2 separate regions of the Homo sapiens genome follow, and region 2 is linked to region 1. A link means that fine-mapping ties the variant in region 1 to the expression of a gene that starts in the linked region. Tissue or cell type: ileum. Region 1 holds a variant in brackets; the other region holds the start of a gene. All regions are shown on one strand. Distances are from middle to middle.

What was found. PIP is the estimated chance that this variant, and not a neighbour inherited with it, causes the effect.
Region 2: it holds the start of ARSL, and the variant in region 1 is fine-mapped to the expression of ARSL in ileum (GTEx, PIP 0.94).

What each region holds. Positions count from the first base shown.
Region 1 is chrX:2,894,335-2,897,090 of GRCh38, forward strand. No RefSeq gene overlaps it. Among named protein-coding and RNA genes, the nearest start is that of ARSD-AS1, 9.2 kb to the right of the region's middle. RefSeq lists an enhancer at 2,728-2,756. The variant T/C (reference allele first, on the strand shown) is at 1,492.
Region 2 is chrX:2,963,222-2,965,849 of GRCh38, forward strand. It overlaps ARSL (arylsulfatase L), which reads right to left and starts at 1,120. Exons shown (of 11, transcript NM_000047.3): 1 at 1,003-1,120. RefSeq lists an enhancer at 605-1,428.

The DNA.
Region 1 (2,756 bases):
TAAAGAACTGACTCATGTAACCAAATACCACCTGTTTCCCAAAAACCTATGGAAACAAAACAATTTAAAAATTTTTTAAAAAGAAATTAAGGATGTTTCTTTCCTCTGGGTATTAAGGCACCTTTCAAATGAGGGTGGTTTGACCTGCTTCAGGAGAGAAAGATGAGAGGAAGGTCAGAGAGACCATCCCGCTTCTGCTGTTTTCTCCAATGCCAAGGGGCCATGTTTTGGGGCGGCACGTCCTGAAACCCCTCACAAGCAACATAAATGAACCTGGATTGCTTAAACAACACCATCCAGGCATGGTGAGTGTGTGGGGTCATTCGAAGAGTAAGGAACGTAGAAGAGCTAGTGTTATAAAATGGCGAAATCAAGAACAGCCTGTGGACAGCATGCAGCGGTGGCTTTATGGGATTACTGTTGTGAGATGCTCAGGGTGAACGTGGGAGAATCCAAGCCTGAGACCCTGGCTCCTCCTTGGCTTGGATCGGGGAGAGCAGAACACCTTGATCTACTATCCCACCTTGTCCCCTGTAGGGAAGTAGAAGAGCCATAGCCACGTGAGGTGATGTCCGTAAAAGAGCGAGATTGCTGTGTGACATACAGAACAAAGCCCACCGCCACATTCTCCCTTCCTGATTCTTCAGCCTGATCAGAATGTGGCTTTGTTCATAGACTAATGGCTAAATTGGCAAAATGCCCCAAGATACGGAGTTGCAGTTGCGAAAGAGCCACGATTGCTGTGAAGATTGTAGAAGCTGTGATCTGCAAAGCACGGAGAGCAAGGCCTGGCTCATGTCAAGGACTCAATAAATGTCACAGCTGTACTCATTATTTTTACCCTGAGGCCACATCCTGGCACAGGGAGAAGGGTGATTATCCATTATACGAGGTCTGGCTGTGGATTGGGATGGCAGTGCATTAGCTGTTTCTTATGTGCATATAGAGAAGTCTGCTCAGGGGCTGTGTCTTTGCAAGCTCATGCCCTCTAAGCAGCTGCTTTAGAACAGGTGAAAATTGGCCAGGCACAGTGGCTCATGCCTGTAATCCCAGCAATTTGAGAGGCCGAGGTGGGCAGATTGCTTAAGTCCAGGAGCTCGAGACTAGCATGGGCAACACGACAAAACCTCCTCTGTATAAAATATACAAAAATTAGATGGGCGTGGTGGTGCACGCCTGTGGTCCCAGCTATTTGGGAGGCTGAGGTGGGAGTATCACTAGAGCTTGGGAGGCAGAGGTTGCAGTGAGCAAGATTGTGCCACTGTACTCCAGCCTGGGTGACAGAGCCAGACCCTGTGTCAAAAAAAAAAAAAAAAAAAAAAAAAAAAAAAAAAAAAAAAAAAAGCCAAGTGTGTGGCTCATGCCTGTAATCCCAGCACTTTGCAGGGCTGAGGTGGGCAAATCACCTGAGGTCAGGAGTTTGAGACCAGCCTGGCCAACATGGTGAAACCCCGTCTCTACCAAAAATACACACAGAATATTGGCCAGGCA[T/C]GGTGGCGCATGCCTGTAATCCCAGCTGCTCGGGAGGCTGAGTGAGGCAGGAGAATTGCTTGAACCCGGGAGGTGGAGGTTGCAGTGAGCTGAGATCACCCCACTCCACTCCAGCCTGGGCAACAGAGCGAGACTCTGTCTCAAAATAAATAAATAAATAGAACAAGTGGAAATAAATGAGACGTCCCCCATCCCAAATGTTTTCGTCCCAAATGAAAATGAGCAGAGGCCACTTATTCAGAGCTAGCCCTAGTAAGGGAGTCAGACATCACCCTTTGCATTTTGGCAGGGACCGAAAGACAAGTAGAGGAGGCTTTATAGTGTCAGACCTCAGGATACACGTCCCCAAACATGACTGCTGGCAACCAGAATATACCAGCCCAACATACCCATTACTTTGAGCTGAAACACTGAGAACCAGCTAATACAAGAGGAGCTCTTTACTTGCTCCTCGACAGCTAAAAATAAAGTACAAATTTCCCCTTTGAAAAGAGAAATTTAGGCCAGACATGGTGGCTCACGCCTGTAATCCCAGCACTTTTGGGGACTGAGGCAGGTTGATCACCTGAGGTCAGGAGTTCGAGACCAGCCTGGCCAACATGGTGAAACCCCGTCTCTACTAAAAATACAAAAATTAGCTGGGTGTGGTGGCTCATGCCTGTAACCCCAGCTACTCAGGAGGCTGAGGCAGGAGAATTGCTTGAACCCACGAGGTGGAAGTTGCAGGGAGCCGAGATCATGCCACTGTACTCCAGCCTGGGCGACAAGAGTGAACAAAACTCCATCTCAAAAAAAAAAAAAAAAAGAAATTTTTGTTTTGTTTTGTTTTGTTTGTTTGAGATGGAGCCTTGCTCTGTCGCCAGGCTGGAGTGCCGTGGTCCGATCTTGGCTCCCTGCAACCTCCCCCTCCCGGGTTCAAGCGATTCTCCTGCCTCAGCCTCCCGAGTAGCACAAGCACGTGCCACCACGCTCAGCTAATTTTTGTATTTTTAGTAGAGACGGGGTTTCACCATGTTGGCCAGGCTGGTCTCTATCTCTTGACCTCGTGATCTGCCTGCCTCAGCCTGCCAAAGTGCTGGGATTACAGGCATGAGTCACCCCACACCCAGCCGAAATTTGGTAAACTCAATCAAGTTTATTTATTTATTTATTTATTTTTTTAATGGGTCGCGCTTTTGGTGTCTTATTTTCCTAACCCAAAACGAAAAAGACTTTCTCCTCTGTTTTCTTCTGCACATGTTATAGAGATCGCACTTACATTTGGG
Region 2 (2,628 bases), 69 kb after region 1:
AGACGCAATTACGTTTCACCAACCTAATAGCATCTTCACCGGGAAAGAGATTGATTTAAAATTGTACATGGAGAGAAAACCAAAATGAGCATTTTAATACCCTCAGCATTGCTTTCTGACCTACAATGACATGCTGCCAATGGTCAGAAAACGGAATAAAAGCAAAATACTGTACAAATGTAATGAGAAAACCCCAAACCACCACAAACTAGGGGAAGATGGTTTTTGCAGCAATCCTGCCCAGCAGTGGTTTATCTCTGGGTGTGGAGATTTAGGAAAAGTGCTCTTTTTCTAATTTTTCTTTTCTTTTCCTTTTTTTTTTTTTTTTTTTTTTTTTGAGATAGGGTCTGGCTGTTTCACCCAGGCTGGAGAGCAATGGTGCGACCATAGTTCACTGCAGCCTCAAATTCTTGGGCTCAAGCGATCCTCCTACCTCAGCCTCCCAAGTAGCTGAAACTACAGGCACATGCCACTATGCCTGGCTATTGATTTTTTTTTTTTTAAGTAGAGGTGGGGTTTCCTCTTTTGCTCAGGCTGGTCTCAAACTCCTGGGCTCAAGCAATCCACCCGCCTCGACCTCCCAAAGTGCTGGGATTACAGACGTGAGCCACCGTGCCCGACCTAATTTTTCTTTCTCCCGCAATGTTATGTATTTATAAGTAAAAATATGAATATTTTTTCTTGGAGAAAAACGTTAAATAAATAAAGAGATGGTGATAACAGCCTTGAATGAGTTTAATTTTGGAAACTGTGACATTGAGGTGACCCAGAGCATGGGGCCTGCCCAAGGCCTCTCCTGCAGATTAGAAAACAGATCCCCCTTCTCCAGGAAAGAGCTGCATTCCTAGGCCTGTAAGTCACGGGTACGTTTCTGCTTTATCAAAACAAACTGGGCAATTATTCAGAGACAGAAAAGGGAACGGGGAGCTCTTTGTTCACCACGCTATTCATGCCTGGTCACGGAGCCCAAATCCAGCACAAATGAACATTCACAGGACTCACCTCTGCTCCTGGGCTCCTTCCTGAATCCCCGATCAAGAAGAGGAAGGTTCTCTCCCAAAGGAAGCAAGCGTGAAGGCAGAGAGCACTTGCACAAGGCTTTGAGCTGGGAATGATTAACTTCGAGTTTGTTTTTCCCAAGTCAGAAGATCAGAGAGAGTTAGGACAGACAGAGCAGACTCCCCCCACATCGCAGCATGGGGGAATCTCAAAGCCACGCCCACGTCTACCAAACCAGTGGTCAGTTTCCTTAGGTTTTTATTTTGTTTTATTTTTTGTAGAGACGGGGTTTTGCCATGTGGCCTAGGCTGGTCTCAAAGTCCTGAGCTCCAGTGATCTGCCCTCCTTGGCCTCCCGAAGTGCTGGGATTACAGATGTGAGTCACCGTATTCTGCCAGTGTCCTTAGGTTTTTAAGTGATTGCCTGTGCTGTTACACAGGGTGCTGGCTATAATATGATCATATCCAACCTGGCATGGTGGCTCATGCCTGTAATCCCAGCGCTTTGGGAGGACGAGGCAGGAAGATTGCTTGAGGCCAGGAGTTTCAGAGCAGCCTGGGCAGCAAAGTGAGATGCTGTCTCTTCAAAAATAAAAAATATTAGGCTGGGCAGTGTGGCTTATGCCCATAATCCTAGCACTTGGGGAGGTTGAGGCAGGAAGATCGCTTGAGCCCAGGACTTCGAGACCAGCCCGGGCATCATAGCAAGACCCTGTCTCTATAAATAATAAAACAATTAGCCAGGCATGGTGGCATGTGTCTCTACTGCCAGCTACTCAGGAGGCTGAGGTGGAAAGATTGTTTGAGCCTGGGAGGTTGAAGCTGCAGTTTCACTCCAGCCTGAGTGACAGAGCAAGACCCTGCCTCAAAAAAAAATGTTTTAAAGAAGTTATTTGTTGAGTGGTAAATGAAGTAAATAAGAAATAATAAAGATAAGATAAAAATAAAAAAGAAAACATTTCTTAAAGTAAATAAACAAACAAACAAAAGAAGTAAAAAGGCCAGGCGCAGTGGCTCATGCCTGTAATTCCAGCACTTTGGGAGGACGAGGTGGGCCGATCACTTGAACCCAAGAGCTCGAGACTAGCCTGGCCAACATGGTGAAACCCTGTCTCTGCTAAAAATAGAAAAATTAGCCAGGCATGGTGTCACATGCCTGTAATCCCAGCTACTCGGGAGGCTGAGGCAAGAAAATTGCTTGAACCCCGGAGTCGGAGGTTACAGTGAGGCAAGATCGCAGCATTGTACTCCAGCCTCAGCAACGGAGAGAGACTCTGTCTCAAAAATTATAGTAATAATAATAATAAACATAAGATAAAAAGAAAAAAAATAAGCAAAAAAAAAAGTAAAAAAAGGATTATTTTCAAGCAATGCTTGGTTTAAAAACATAGAAAAGACGGGCTGGGCACGGTGGCTCACGCCTGTAATCCCAGCGCTTTGGGAGGCTGAGGTGGGCTGATCACCTGAGGTCAGGTGTTTGAGACTAGCCTGGCCAACATGGCAAAACCCCGTCTGTACTAAAAATACAAAAATTAGCTGGATGTGGTGGCGTGCACCTGTAATCCCAGCTACTTGGGAGGCTGAGATAGGAGAATCGCTTGAACCCGGGAGACGGAGCTTGCAGTGAGCC